Linked DNA regions of Homo sapiens: region 1 is linked to region 2. A link means that fine-mapping ties the variant in region 2 to the expression of a gene that starts in the linked region. Tissue or cell type: whole blood. Region 2 holds a variant in brackets; the other region holds the start of a gene. All regions are shown on one strand. Distances are from middle to middle.

Region 1 (8,129 bases), 88 kb before region 2:
AGTGAGCCATGATCACACCACTGCACTCCAGCCTGGGTTATAGAGCGAGACCCTGTCTCCAAATAAATAAATAAATAAGAAATAGACATTGAAAGAAAATCCTCAAAGCTGGGAAATTTCTATTATACTGAACACTGTTAGAACAGGAAGAATTAAACAAAAGAAGGCCAGAGGGTAGTAAAAGTTTGCTCCCATTCCACACTGCAATAGAATGATAGAACATGTTAAAATAAAAAGAAAAATCTCAACAGATAGTAGAAAGTCAAGAGCATGGAGGAGTAAAATAAATACATCTTCAGAATTTATTAAAACAATGTCAGAGATGAAATGGGCAGGATTCCATGGTTTGTTGTATTATTTAAAAAAAAAAAAAAAACCGCCCAAGAGGAATGAGATGATCTGAAAAAATGCAACTCTGATTGAGTAATCCCAAATGGTTTCAGTAAGGATGGCAAGGGGGCTGTACTCGGAGAACTCAGTGTGTTGGTTGGGGAAGGGCTGAGATGAGCTCTTGAGTAGACAGGTACAAAGGAAAGAGAGGAGGCAGAGAACATTAGAGGGTGACATACACCTTGGAGAGTCATTGCTGTTGTTTGGAGCCTCCCAGGCTGTTGTACTTTGTGATGGTAGCCTTGGGAAACCAATAGAGTATGCCTTCCTCTCCCCTTCACATAATCCTCACCATTTGGTGAGGGAGACCTTGATAAGCCAACTGTAACCCCACACACATTCTTTGGCCAACAATATCACTTGAGAAGACCAAGTCTTCACAGCTGTGTCATGTGCCGGTGTCAGGATGTGGCACCAGGGATGCCTTTGCACAGCCTTTTCACGTTGGCTTAGGCAGACTTTCCCAGGCTGGAGTGCAGTGGGGTAATTATAGCTTGCTGCAACTTTGACCTCCTCGGCTCAAGCCATCCTCCTGCTTCAGCCTCCCAAATAACTGGGACTACAAGCGTGTGCTACCACGTCCAGCTAAGTTTTAAAATTTTTTGTAGAGATAGCTTGCTATATTGTCCAGGCTGGTCTCAAACTCCTGGCTTCAAACAGTCCTCCCAACTCGGCCTCCCAAAGTGCTGGGATTACAGGAATGAGACACCATGCCCGGCCCCATGTCTTTTTTTAACAGAGTTTTAAACCTGGAAAAATGTATACACAATGGTGTCTGGAATTAAGCAGGTACTTAACAGTTATCCCTGTGGATAAACTGAAAAAGTACAGGACGTGAAAAAGGAAAATTCAATAGATTAATTTTTATCGAGTAGTCAAATAAAAAGCATGCCGATGAATGGGACCATGAGAACTTGGAAGGCGGATTCTATTTTCATGATGTGGGGGATCTGTCAAGTGCCCAATTCTAGATACAATTTATCTTAATAATTGAGATGAAGGTATAGAAAGCACATAGAACAAATTTGTAAATAGACTGACACATGGAAAGATAGCAAATAATATCAGAAAAAAATCAGAGAAATGTCTTGTTGGCTAATGCATCTGATTTTCATTTTGGGAGAGTATGACTTCCAGTCGTGCAAGTGCCATGAATCTATTAATAACAGACAGCAGAACAAGGATGCCAGCGAAGCTGGAAGGAGAGTCAACTACATTGCTAAGTTCTAAGGAGATGAAAAGGGAAAGAATTTCATTTTCAAAATGCAAAACAGGAAGACAGGCTGGTAAGAAGTTGTGTGTACATTTAACAGAGAAGTATACGTGAAACAAAGGAGGCTGGAGAAACCCACCACGAGGGATTGTGATGCTATTATTAGAGTACAGGTAAGTTTAACCAAACCATTTAGGGTGCCAATGATCATAATACATATTTTACAAAGGAAAAACCTAGTGGCTTAAAACAACATACATTTATTACCTGACAGGTCAGGAAGTTGAACGTGGCTTAGCTGGGTCCTCTGGCTTAGGGGCTCTCACAAGGCTGCAGTCAAAGTCTTGACTGGGTCTGTGGACTTATGAAGGCTCGCCTGGGGAAGGATCCACTTCTGTGTTCACTTACATGGTTATTAGCAAAATTCAGTTGCTCATGGGCTGCTGGTCTGAGGGCCTCAGATCCTCACTGGCTGTTGGCTGGACATATCCTTGCTACATTGGCCTTTTCACATTGCAGTTCATGGCATGGCAGCTGGCTTCTCTTAAAGCAGGCAAGCAAGAGAGGAAGAGGAAACAAGCAAGTCAGGAGCCATAATCTTTTTGACATCTTCTCGTTTTTGGCATATTCTGTTAGAAGAAAGTCCTCAGGTCTAGCCCAGACTCAAGAGGAGGGAATTACACAAGAGCGTGAGCACCAGGAAGTGGGATCACTAGATGCCATCTTGGAAACTGGCTACTACATGGGGTATAAGCAGGATTAGACTTTGTCAAAAGCAGAAATGCTTCACGGATAAATGTTTGTATTCCTACATTAAGGAAGAGGTACAGATGGTTCCTGACTTATGACTTATGATTTCCTGACTTTATGATGGTGTGAAAGAGATATGCATTCAGTAGAAGCTGTACTTTGAGTTTTGAATTTTGATCTTTTCCCGGGCTAGCAATACGCAATATGGTATTCTCTCCTGGTGCAAGGGAGCCATAGCTCCCAGTCAGCCACACAATCATGACAGTAAATAACTAGTACTGTGTTGCCAGATGATTTGGTCCAACTGTAGGCTAATATAAGTGTTCTGAGCACATCTTAGGGTAGGCTAGGCTAAGCTATAATGTTTGATAGGTTAGGTATAGTAGATGCATTTTTGACTTACGATATTTTCAATTTATGATGGGTTTATGTGGATGTAATCCCATTGTACATTGAGTGACAGATTAAAAAAATAAGAAAGGTCTTTAAAAATGGAAAGAGCAATCTATGGAAAGAATGTGATGAAGGGGATACCAGGCTGGAAAAGAAAAACCAAGAACCTAAGAGAAAAATGAGAAAACTATTATATAAGGAAGGTGTGTGCCCATAAACTAGAGCTTCTATTTAAGCATTAAAATAATCTCAAAAGCTGGGCGTGGTGGCTCATGCCTTAAATCTCAGCACTTTGAGAGACTCAGGAGAGAGGATTGCTTGAGCCCAGGAGTTTGAGGCCAGCCCAGGCAACAAAGTGAGATCTTGCCTCTACAAAAAATTTAAAAATTAGCCGGGTGTGGTGGTGCACATCTGTGGTCCAAGCTACACAGGAGGCTGAGGCAGGAGAACTGTTTGAGCCCAGGAGGTGGAGGCTGCAGTGAACTGAGATCGTGCCACTGCACTCTAGCCTGGGTAACTGAGTGAGACTGTCTCAAAAAAAAAAAAAAAAAAAAAAAAATCTCAAAAGACCCCAGAAGATAGGACCAGACAAATGCAATAGTTTATATGATAAACTGCTGCTTTAAAGACAACATAGAGTTCAAAGACATTTGTCTCCACCCGCCAAAAAATACTTGCCAAGGAAACAACACAATAGCTAATACCTGAATGTGCCATTGTAAGAAACTTCTAGAGCTAACTGGCAAAGACCTGCTTTTATATTTAAGATAGGTAAACTATATTTTTGGAATTAAAAAGGAGGAAGAAGAATCACAGTGTTCGGGGGAATTCCTTTAGAACAGGCCATCTCTTCCCTATTCTAGGAGGCAGGCCTGGTGCTCTGGCCCTGGCTCACCTTTCTGGCCTTTCCCACCCCTCCCTGCCAAGCACCTCTGCTGCAGCCACACTGGCCTCCCCAGCAATCACGTGAATACCAGCTTCCCCCGAAATCTCATTTCCTTTAGGAAGAACTTCCCTGATCAGCACGTAAAATAGCATCGATCTTGACGCATCCTGTTTTCCTGCTTTTATTTTTCTTTATAGCAATTTCCACTTTCTGAATTTAAATGTTTATTTCTTTGTTTATTGCCTGACTCCTCTGAGATAAAAGCTCTATGAATTCAAGGACTGGGCTCACTTCTGTAGGACCTGGAAAAGCATGCCATTGACTCTTATCAAGCAGATGAAAGAAAAACATACAATAAGTGAAGTCCATAAAAAATAGAAGAACCCAACAGAAAATGGGCGAAAAAGGTGAAGAACAATGACAATTTCCTAGAGCTGCACTAATATAAATGTATGTGCATGAGGAATATTTGTATTTTTGTATAATATGTAATCCATTAAAAAAATTCCGAGAGATTCAAATGAACTAAAGTACTCGAAAATGTTTAAGCCCCCCGCGCAACAACTCTCGCGCCCCCTGTCGGCGCGCTGGTAAATTTCTGAGGATTCTCAGCAAGAGGACTGAACTCACCCTCCCTCTTTTACAAAATGTATTCTTGTCGCTATTTCATTGGCTGTACCTTTCAGACGCCCCTTTCACATTAGTCAAGCCTCCAGTCCATCACTTCCGGACCCAAGCCCTCTATTGGTCAGCTGTAGGCGACAGCAGACAGCGGGCCGCGCTCAAGCAGGAGGAGTTCCTCGGTGACGTCACAGACACTCCCCGGCTACATTCCAAGGCGTGGGCGGAGACTTCCCGCGGCCTCTGCCTTTGGGGGCGGGACAAAGCCGAGAATGAGACTTCTGATTGGGTCTGCTAGGCAAGGCGGATATCCAATTGGTCAAGCCTTGGAGGGAGGTGGGGCCGCAGCTGGGTCCTGGAGCAGAGCCGAGGAGCCCTGGGGTCCCTCAAAGTTTGTGTCTGGAGCCGTAGCGGCAAGTGGGCTTGCGGCTAAGGGATTTTCCTGGGATGAGAGCGGGTCTTCTGCCTTCATTTTGGATGCACATCCCGCTTTAGCCCCGGCAGCCTTTGGTCCGGCTCGTGTCCCTGGGGATTCTCGGATCTCCGAGGACACCGGACGGGAGCGCTTGGCCATCCTCTCTCCGGCAGAGGAGCAGACGTTTGCTTTCCAAGTGCAAAACTACAGACACGCGCGCGCACACACGCAAGCACACGCGGAGAGAGAGGAACCTTGCCGGTCCGAGGCAGCTCTGCGCGTCCCCTCCTGCGCTTAGCATCCTCGGCCCAGCGCGGCCCGCACCGCCATGGAGGTGCTGGAGAGCGGGGAGCAGGGCGTGCTGCAGTGGGACCGCAAGCTGAGCGAGCTGTCAGAGCCCGGGGACGGCGAGGCCCTCATGTACCACACGGTGAGGACCCGGCGGGCGGGGCAGGAGGGCTTTCAAAGCGGGCAAGTGTTGTCACGCGAGGAGCAGCTGGAGTCCTGGGACCCGGGAAGGCAGGGTTTGGGGCAGGGCATGGTCAGAATCAAGAGGTCCTGGGCGAGGTGTACTTTAATGTCTGAGCAGATGAAGGCGGGCAGCTGGCCCCTTTACATTTCTCATGAGAGTAATGCCACTTTGTATTCCTTTAACAATTCATGCTTTTTTCCCTGAGGCTTTTTCCATCTGTAATATCATTTGCTGTTGTTAACAGTACTGTAATGCGGGAGAGGGAGTGTGTGTTTTGAGAATAACATGCCTCCGCCTAGTTTGCTATTGATTTTTTTTTGAGGTTTTCAAAAACTGGACAAGATTAAGTAGCATTTCCTTTTCATCTGTCTCGTATTCTCTCTCCCTCTCTCCCTCCCTTCCTCTTCTTTCATATTTATATTTTAAAAAGTACACGTGTGTGTGTGTGTGTGTGTGTGTGTGTGTGTGTGTGTGTGTGTTGAAAGGGCTCCTCTACGTTAGGGAGAAAGGCGGCTTTATTTGCTTTCTTAAACTGTACGACCAAGAAGTCTCCTTCCTCCCTCTTCGGAGGAAAAACCAGCAGAGGAGTATGGAAAATCTGAGACAGTTGCATATTTAAGAAAGGCTCTGGGGAAGGTGGGACAGCTCACCAGTTGCTTGTTCAGTCTTATACTAATGCCTCAGAGATCTCTTGGGGGATTAAGCTGTCCCAGAGCACGCACATTTCTTTTAAAGTTTTTAATGTCAAGTTTTTGGTATTAAGTTTGCAAAATGAAATTTTGTTTTCAATAGCCAGCACTGATCATAGGACTTTATGCAAGATCTCTTTGTTTGATTCTTATCCATGCAGACGTTTGTAATGGGGGTGGGGCTGGGGTGAGGGGGGACACTAATGAGAAAACCACTGGAGGCTTGGCTGCTTCCCCTTCACGCTTTTTTAATGGGGTCAGTACCAAGATATTTGAAACTTTCGCAAAATGGCCTGCAGGCTCCACCTCTTTGGCCTTTGACTCTGGCTGACGTTATTTTGAGACAAGGAATGAGGGCCTCCCTGCTGATTCCCACCGAAGTATTTGTGGTGGCTGAGAGTGGCTTGTTTAAAAAAAATGCAGAGTGCAGGGCTGAGAGGGAGTGGTAGTTCATGCTGGGGCAAAAGCCAGATGTTCAGTGTGATCTTCTGGGCTTTGCTTGCTGAGCTTGTCATGGGGACACTATGTGGGCAGCACGGAGGTTGGGGTACCAGATGTGCTTCCTGTCCTCAGTAAAGAACTTGGAGTATGTTGTTCCTCAAATATCTTTTGATGAATGGGTGCTCCAGGAGTTTCTACTGACAGGCTACATTTTATCCATATGCAGAGGGGCAGCCCTTCTCTTTTGTTCTTGAAGTATTCTTTCGCTGTGACAGTGTCTCATCCAGCAGCTGCAATGCCACAGCTAGGGGGTTGTCTTTCAGCTGGTGGGATGAATTACGCACAGGCATCTACCTTGCTGTTCTTTGGCCCTGTAGCTTGCATTTGTGAGTTCACAGGGAAAGGTGCGAGATGCTACCCGTGACTGTGGCATTCACTCTGGGAAGAACTGCTTGGACTGGCTCTAACTAACACCTTATGCACACTTTCAGGGAGTAGAGGCCTTACATTTGCTTTGATATTAACAGCCCAGTTTTTCTGTCATTGTGATAAAGCAGGAATGTGTGATTATTTTTCTTTTATTTCTATTTTTAAAAAATGCTTATTATGTCCTCCACTTAGGTACATGTCTGTTGTGAACAGCTCATTCCTGTAAAATGCTGCTCATCATTGCTGCAAGTCAGTGCAACAAACTGTGCATATGAATTACTGTTGAAAGAGGTATTGGTTTAGCAGCACAAATGATTGGGTTATATTTCTCTCAAACTAAGGGACGTTTGGGAGAGGTGGGGAGATAATTTTCCCATCTGTTTCCTGAACTCTGTTAGATATCCAGGGGCAGAGCTGTTTGTTACTCTAGCTGAATCTTTATGTAGAAAAAGGATGGCCTGATTATTCATTCAGTCAGAGAGATATTTGTTCTTTCGATTAATATTTGTGGAATATATAAAGCACTTGGAAACATGAGTGAACAGAAGCAGACAAAATCCCTGACTTCTAGAAGCTTATATTCGTGTGTGTGTGTGTGTGTGTGTGTGTGTGTGTGTGTGTGTAGGGGAACATAAACAATAAACATTATAAAGAAGTGATTATGTTGGATGAAATAAGTGTTATGGAAAACGTATAAGTAGAACAAGGTGAGGGGGATAGAGAATACAAGGTGGAAGAAGAGCAAACTATGGGATTGAACTGAGTGATCAGAGCAAGCTTCCCATAGAAAATGGATCTGAACAAAAATTGGAAGGAGGTAAGAGTGTTAGCTCAGCAGGATGAAGAACTAGAGCAAAGGCCTAAGGTAGGTGTGCATTTTCATGAGACTGTGTTAATATCATGTATTTCAGATTACTCATTTTGGTGAGTTATTTGTCTTATAAACTCTGGGTGCTTCTGAGACACCAGTGCCTGTTTTTGGAATGATTTCATAAAACTTTCCAAGTTGAAGAGAGCCTGAGGGGAGGGTGAGGTTCAAATACGAGTTGTGAGGGTGGTAAGAGATGATGACAGCTACCATCTATTGAGTGTTTATCATCCGAAAGGCAGGGCTGACCACATGGCCTGCCACCCATGCAGTGCCACGGGGTCCACACTTGGTTTGATGCTGTGCTGTCACCATCTTGAAAATCTTAATTCTTTTTGAACTGGGGACCTTACATTTTCATTTTGCACTGGGTTTCACAAATTACGTAGCTGGTCCTGCTGAAAGACATTGTGTCTAGTGCTTTACAAATATTATGCCATTTAACCCTTGTAATGACCCAGTGAAATGAGCCATTTTTATTACTTTTATTTTACATATAAGAAAAATGAGGCTTCGTGAGTTTAAGCCACTTGGCTCAGTTCCCACAGCTATTTAGTGATAG
Region 2 (8,129 bases):
CGCCTGTTGTTTGCCCTCAAAAAAGCTCAGGGGAGGAGAGGCCGCTTCCTTGGGCTTCTCTCTTGGAAATGTACAGTTGTCCTTGAGAGAGAAGGTTTCCTTTTATAGTTCAAGTACCATCACTTGCCCTGTGGTTTCCATTCCCTGAGGCAGCACTGATGATATTTGTATGTTTGTAAAGAGGGCTATAGGACACTGGGCATTAAGAATATTAAATGGTCTTGACTTGTTTTACGAATGTGCACACTTTGAGAATGGCCTCACTAGATTGGAATAACTGATTCTATCTATCACCCATCTTCATTTTGTTTTTTGTATTCACTTTTTTTTTTAACTTTTGCCTCTTCTTTTGTTTGCCTTGTGAATTAAGTTTCATCACAGTTGCCTTCACTGCACAGTCAAGGGATCTGGCCTTATCTCACAATTTCCTGGTAATTGTGTGCGACCTTTTTCTCAGGGATGCTTCCTTACCGTCCATTTCAGCCTGTACTGAGGCTATATTTCATCCTACCGTCTTTCTTCCAGCCTTTGCCAGGGATAAATATTACTCAGTGTGGGCAGGCTTTAAGTGTTGACTTCAAAAAGCAAAAGCATGGCTGTTCACGGTGGCTCACACCTGTAATCCCAGCACTTTGGGAGGCCGATCACCTGAGGTCAGGAGTTCAAGACCAGCCTGGTCAACATGACAAAACCCCGTCTCTACTAAAAATATAAAAATTAGCTGGGCGTCGTGGCGTGTACCTGTAATTCCAGCTACTCAGGAGGCTGAGGCAGGAGAATCGCTTGAATCCGGGAGGCGGAGTTTGCAGCGAGCCGAGATGGTGCCACTGCACTCCAGCCTGGGTGACAGAGCAAGAATGTCTCAAAACAAAACAAAAAGCAAAAGCATCACCATGTCATTGCCGAATGGAAAAAATGGGATCTATGCGGTCTCTGTCTCTCCAGCCCTTCCCTAACTGTCCTAAGCGGGTGTTCTTTGCAGCGGACATTGTCTTCTAGCTCCTAAGCTCCTTTGGGGAGAGTCAACGGAATCTTTTGGCTCGTGGTCCAGTTGCTCCATCTCTGGGCTGAGCTGGGGCACGGTCTGAGTCCAGTACAGAGTGGTCTCCCTCCTCTGGCCGCCATCAGAGAGCCCTTTGTTCCCCCGCCCTCCCCTTCCACCAGGATGTGGCGCACACCCCATGAAGGATGGAAATCCCCGTCACACCATAGCACTCAGCAGCCCCACTCTAAAAGCAAAACATCTTCCACCACCTGCCCATCCTGTCTTTATTTCACCTTGGGAAATAAATTGAGGCTGGGATAATTCATCAATTATAAACTGGATTTAAGGGGGAAATCATTCCTCAAATATGAACCTAACATTTTTGTGCTTTAAAGAAGTCACTTATGAAACATAATTTTAATAATCGTAGATTTTAGTTCTTAGTTTCTGTGTCTACCCTTCCCTTCTTCTTAGCGGTTCTAAATGATTGTACCTTTTCATAAGAAAACTGGAGTCACATTCTTGAATGTAAAATAAATTTATAATGTGAACGACTTTGCTCTCCTGACAGTCATGGGTCACTAAGTATGTGAAATGTGGTGTATGTGTGTAAGCATTTTGAGAAAGCAAAGGAGCGTGTCTTTGCTTTATTTTAGCCTCATTTTAGTAAAACTGGTATCAGCTAAGGAACGTTGCCTTTGGCTTGCTTTGTCTTGTTCTGTGGCTGTTTCCAACCCTCTGGTCGTTTCCTTTCCTTCCCTCCTCCCGGCTTTTCCAGGCAGTGCTGAGCGCTAGCTCCAAAGTAACTTGTTAAGAAATACAAATTCTTATTCTTTTAGACTCTGAGAAGAATGTGCATTAAGTGGCAGAGGCACTCTGTCTGTTCCGTCTTGTCTCTCGGTTGTTAGCTATCTCCAGGCCTGGTGATAATCAGGAAAGACAAGACCCAGACTCACCAAGATGCAGCTGTTTTCTCAGGAAGAGTATTTTGTCCATTTCAGCAAAGGGCAGATGGTTATTACAAACCAAAGTCTCCCAAAGGGCTAAGCAGAGTCTCTGAAAGTCTAAGTTAGGTTTAAGGCTAGGTGGGATCACAGTGAAAACAGAAGAGGACAAAAACAAACAAAAAAATGGAGTGAGAAGAAAAAATATCAAAAAACCAAATAACTTTCCTTTGGAGAGAAGGAGAGAGAGACCTACTCACCATGTTCTCTCATCTTCTCCCGTTGGTTACCAACCATTTGCTTGCTTCTCTCTCTCTCTCTGTCGCTCTCGCTGTCACTCGCTCTCGCTCTCGCTCTCACTCTCACTCTCACTCTTGCTTTCTCTCGCTCCCCCTCCCCCTCCCTTCCCTTTCTCTCTCTTTCTTTCTTGACAGGGTCTCACTCTGTTGCCCAGGCTCTGGAGTACAATGATGTGATCACAGCTCACTGAAGCCTCGACTTCCTGGTTTAAGCAATCCTCCTGCCTCAGCCTCCCAAGTAGCTGGGACCACAGATGCTCACCACTGCACCTAGCTAGTTAAAAATTTTTTTTTGTAGAGACAGAGTCTTGCATTGTAGCCCAGGTTGGTGTTGAACTCATGGGCTCAAGCAATTCTCTTGCCTTGGCATCCCAAAGTGCTGGGATTACTTGCGTGAGCCACTGTGCCCGGCTGCTTCTTTCTTTCATGTTTTTAAATGTGCTTATTTATCTATTTTTGAATAGATAATACATTTACATGATTTGACAACCAAAAAGAGTAGCTCATTACATATTCAAAATCCTCCCTCCTATTCTATTCCCCATCAACCCAGGTTTCTTCCTGCCTTTCTCAGGAAGCCAAGTTTCTTTCTTTTCTATGGATTCCTTCCAGAGTTTCTTTAGGCATACTCACATGCAAGCGAATACAAGTATAGATTCTTTCTTTGCTGTTCATATCTATCAATCTTTTCCCTCACATATTTCATTTTCTTTTATTCTACTTTCAATCATCCTTCACTGAGCTTTTTTGGGGAGAAAGACTAGTGGTCGCTTGTTTTGCTTATGCCTGATGCCCTGAACAAGTTCACATGTGTGCTTGTCTTTTTTCCTGCAGATGAGGTGGAAAGTGAGAAATGGTACCTGTCTACAGACTTCCCTTCAACATCCATCAAGACAGAGCCAGTTACAGACGAACCACCCCCAGGACTCGTTCCGTCTGTCACTCTGACCATCACAGCCATCTCCACCCCGTTGGAAAAGGAGGAACCTCCTCTGGAAATGAACACTGGGGTATGCTCAATTTTCGTCTGTTTAAACAGGTTGGATTAAAAGATACAGATAGATCCTCATTCTCCAATAAGGTGTTTAATCTTTTTGGAGTTAGTGGCTGTGTACATTTAAGGACATGCAACTTCATATGTGTGTATATACATATGTATACATTTAATAAGGGTATGTTGATTTGGTGCCAACTTCCTTTAAAGCCATTGTTCGGAAAAAATTAGTAGCTAAGCTGATTTCATTCTCTTTTTGATTACTGTTACAAAATAAAAAACACAGAAAATATCTATGGTAAAAAAAATTTCTCTATGGCACTGATTTTTAAGCAGTGGAAAGGGAGTGATTGAAGTGGTGATGTAATCCATGGCTTACAGTGCATGGCTACTGGGAATGTGAGCTCCTGTGTAATATTTTACTTTCCTAGTGAGATGCTGAGTTGTCCTTACTCAAGTCAGGAATGTCCCACGTATTGATTCATATAATAATATGAATAATATTAACAATATTAATAACATTATAATAATAGTAATAGTAATAATAACACCTATTATTGTGTTACCCGTGGAAAGCATAAGAAATCAGGATTTTTTCCTTACTAGATTCCATGCCTACCGCAAGTAGAATTTAATTCTACTCTACCTTCTTTCTGGATATTTCCAGTGTCTGGCCATGGACCAGCATTGTATTTGTACATCTTCTTGCAAGTGTTGGAAGCCTGTCTTAGCTTCCCTTAAGTTCAAAGCTTCAGGTTATAAACAACAACTTCATTAACATTCCTTAAGTCAGATTTCTTGTGAGCAAGATAGAATGTCTATCTGCAGCCGGGCACGGTGGCTCATGCCTATAATCCCAGCACTTTGGGAGGCGGAAGCTGCAGTGAGCCGAGATCGAGGCACTGCACTCCAGCTTGGGCAACAGAGCAAGACTCTGTCTCAAGAAATAAAAAAAAAGAAAGAAAGAAAAAAAGATGTAGTGTCTACCTGTTCAGAATATGGTAACACAGAATCAGTAGACTCATTAAAGTGTCACTGCTTACTCCCTTGTCAGTCCATCTGTGTAGATGATGAAGGGTTGTAGACAGAGGCCTCTGCAAGTGTGCTAGGATTCCTTTCTCAGTAGCTACCTGAGTCTCTTTATTAGGCTGGGCTCTCTGGTCTATATTAGTCTCCTTGCTCCACAGAATTTTAGTTACTTTATTTATTACTTTTTTTTTTGA[A/G]ACAGAAGTCTCATTCTGTCACCCAAGCTGGAGTGCAGTGGCATGATGTCAGCCCACTGCAACCTCCGCCTCCCGGGTTCAGTGATTCTTGTGCCTCAGCCTCCCAGGTAGCTGGGATTACAGGCACCAGCCACCACGCCTGGCTAATTTTTGTATTTTTAGTAGAGATGGGGTTTTACCATGTTGGCCACGCTGGTCTCGAACTCCTGACCTCAAGTGACCCGCCCACCTCAGCGTCCCAAAGTGTTGGGATTACAGGCGTGAGCCACATGCCCGGCCTAGTTGAATTATTGTAAAGTATGTAACTAGCAAAGCTCAGAGGCATGGCCTTGCTCCTGTGTATGGGCCAGATAACTTTTCTCCTTTCCCTACCAGGATTTTCGTGATTAGATACCATCAGTCATTAGGAAGCCTTAATAATAACATCATTAATATTAATTATTAATAATTATATTAATTGTATTATAACATTATTAATTATTAATATTAATAAAGTTATATATAAGAGAAAGGATGTGGCTTGGTGCACAGTCCCTACCCCAGGGCAAGCTGGTGGAGGCCTTTGACTCTTTAAAATTTAGTTCCCATTTTCCATGGTGATTGACTCGATTTAAGTGCATTGTGGCTATATGTAATTTACAGGCTGCTTTACGTTGCAGGCAGGGAAAACTCCCAGGCTGGTGTGAGGCTGAACTGGGATAAGAGACCCCCTGGCCCCTCCTTATTCTGCTAAGGTCACCACCTCTTAGAAGGTCTCTTATTTTCTTTCAGTGATCAAATGCACAGTTACGCTCTACAACTAAATTCTGTAGTCTTGGGAATCCTCACCAGTATCAACTATAAGTTGCTTTTTAAAGCCCCCAAAGTGGAGTGAGGATAGGGGGAGTGGAAGCAGTGTTTGGTTCTTACTTTACCCAAACTATGTATAAAGAATAAAGTTAGCAGAATGATGCCACAAAAAAAAAAGTACCAGAATATTTTGTAATAAAATGCCTTTATAGTACTATAAAAACATAGAAAAGAATATTGATATAGTTTTGGGCTTGAGCATTTGGCTTTCAACTTTAGAGTTCTGAGTGTTTTTCTTTTTCTTTTTTTTTCTTTTTTCTTTTTTTTTTTTTTTGAGATAGGGTCTCACTCTGTTACCTAGGCTGGAGTGCAATGGTATGATCACAGCTCGCTGCAGCCTCAAATTCCTGGGTTCAAGTGATTCTCCTGCCTCAGCCTCCCAAGTAGCTGGGACTGCAGGTGCACGCCATCACAACTGGCTAATTTTTGTATTTTTTTGGGGAGACGTTGTCTCACTATGTTACCCAGGGTGGTCTCAAGGAAGTTCTGAAGGTCCTGTCAGCTGTAATGCCAAGTTTGGCAATGAGAAAAAGGTTAAGAACTAAAATGACTCCCTGTCAGGGAAGTTGCCTACACTCAGCTATTCTCCAGGATAGGCAGGGCTGTCCCGAGAGGAAGACACAGGTGACAAATAGCTCTCCTGCATGTGTCTTCAAGGCTGTGATTGGTTTTTAAAAATTGTGTTTGAAATTCTTCCTCCAGGTTGATTCCTCGTGCCAGACCATTATTCCTAAAATTAAGCTGGAGCCTCATGAAGTGGATCAGTTTCTAAACTTCTCTCCTAAAGAAGGTCTGTCTGCCCTCCCTGTGTCCCTTTGGGTTATGGATATGGTCTCTGGGTCTACAGAGAGGGAATATGGCGAGAGAGCTGGGATGAGTTTGTACCACAGATGTTGTAGCTGGCTTTATGAAATAGCTCTGTTCTTAAAAAATAAAAATTTTGCTTCCAAATAAAAATTTTGCAAGCTAACTATTATTTTCCCATATATGCACGTGATTAAATTTCAGCTAAGTGTTACCATACTTTTACTTCTAACCAGGGTGATATTTTTCAAAACTTTTATGGACTGCTACTACAAACACTATCGAACAAGAGAACTGCAGCCCTTATTCATCCAGGCGTGAACCCTACGTAGCCCCACAAATCAACAACCATCTACAAAAGCACCTTGCTTATTTCAAACAACTCTAGTTTCAACTCTTTGTGAAGTAAATTCACAATTAATTATGTGGCCAATTCATTGTTTGTAAACATTGACTTTGAATGACAACTATTGCAAGGAGCCCCCTCTCTATTTGGTCATGTTCATGGTTCACAATTGTGCATCTTTTTGGGCTTCTTGACATCCATCCATTTAGAATTAACACATCCTTGAGGTGATCATACTTTTTTTTTTTTTTTTTTGAGACAGAGTCTCACTCTGTTACCAGGCTGGAGTGCAATGGCACCATCTCGGCTCACTGCAACCTCTGCCTCCCAGGTTCAAGCGATTCTTGTGCCTCAGCCTCCTGAGAAGCTGCAATTACAGGCGTGCACCACCACACCCAGCTAATTTTGGTATTTTTAGTAGAGACGAGGTTTTGCCACATTGGTCAGGCTGGTCTTGAACTCTCAGCCTTAGGCAATCCGCCTGCTTCGGCCTCCTGAAGTCCTGGGATTACAGGCATAAGCCACCACGCCTGGCCAAGGTTGTTATATTTCTATATTTATCTTTCTCTATGTCAGTTTCTTTCTGAGTTTCTCCCTCTTTGTTCTCCTATGAAGCCCATAGTTAGGAATCCTGGATGCAGACCCCTGAGCCTCATGAGGTCTAATGAAGCTCTCTCTGCCTTGCGTATGCAGATTCTCCGGCATACATCCTGCTCTTCTCACTTCTGTGCCTTCACTCATGCCATCACTTCCCTTTTCATTCATACTTTTTATTTATTTATTTTTTGTGTGTGAAACAGGGTCTTACTCTGTTGCTCAGGCTGGAGTGTAGTAGTGCCATCATGGCTCATGGCAACCTCAACCTCATGGGTTCAAGCGATTCTCCCACCTCAGCCTCCCAAGTAGCGGGGACTGCAGACATGCACCACCACGCCCAGCTAAATTTTGTATTTTTTGTAGAGATAGGGTTTCACCATGTTGCCCAGGCTGGTCTGAAACTCCTGAGCTCAAGTGATCCTCCCATCTTGGCCTCCCAAAGTGTTAGGATTAAAGGCATGTGCCACCTCACCCGGTCCCATTCATACTTTCAGTACAAATTTCAAAGTACAGTTCACTACTGTGGTCAACAAATAAGAAATTGGCTTATACAGTTGTCACCGAAAAGGTATATTTGCTACGGTATATAAATGTGAGGATGTTTACATATGAGCACTTCTCATGAAAATATCGTCTGTCTTCATTCCATTAGAAACTAACTCAGGATTTGGTTTGTAACAATGTAATCAGGGCTGGCCCTTTATTTGCCTTTATTATCAATAAAGAAAGGATTAAATTTTAAAAGTTAATAATACTTAGTGAAATAATACTTAGTAAATAATACTTATTTACTTAGTAAAAGTTAATACTTAGAATCCATATTGAGACACTATGTCTTTGCACTGAGTGACAGACAGTAGTGCCTTTCAGCTTTATGTACTGCTTCAAAGTAATTGCTTTCGTTTGTATAACACCAGTTATTACTATCAAATGCATCTTACTCTTTTAATTTATGCTGTGATGTGGTTCAGAAGTGTCATCACCATAACAATGAATCCCATAGTGGCTTCTGAATCCAGGGTTATTGGAGGAGAAATGTTTCAAGAATGAAGTTAAGGACAGCCCTTCCTCATTATCCTGGATAAACT

The links. PIP is the estimated chance that this variant, and not a neighbour inherited with it, causes the effect.
Region 1: it holds the start of CREB3L2, and the variant in region 2 is fine-mapped to the expression of CREB3L2 in whole blood (TOPMed, PIP 0.98).

What each region holds. Positions count from the first base shown.
Region 1 is chr7:137,998,573-138,006,701 of GRCh38, reverse strand. It overlaps CREB3L2 (cAMP responsive element binding protein 3 like 2), which reads left to right and starts at 4,616. Exons shown (of 12, transcript NM_194071.4): 1 at 4,616-5,098. The coding sequence starts at 4,997. LOC124901752 (a long non-coding RNA gene) reads right to left here and starts at 4,395. Exons shown (of 3, transcript XR_007060551.1): 1 at 4,312-4,395; 2 at 1,871-2,146. RefSeq lists enhancers at 4,317-4,366, 4,597-4,666, 4,757-4,846, 4,395-4,992, 4,937-5,076 and 2 more.
Region 2 is chr7:137,910,946-137,919,074 of GRCh38, reverse strand. It overlaps CREB3L2 (cAMP responsive element binding protein 3 like 2), which reads left to right. Exons shown (of 12, transcript NM_194071.4): 3 at 3,063-3,238; 4 at 5,997-6,084. Among named protein-coding and RNA genes, the nearest start is that of CREB3L2-AS1, 38 kb to the left of the region's middle. RefSeq lists an enhancer at 1,774-1,823. The variant A/G (reference allele first, on the strand shown) is at 4,446.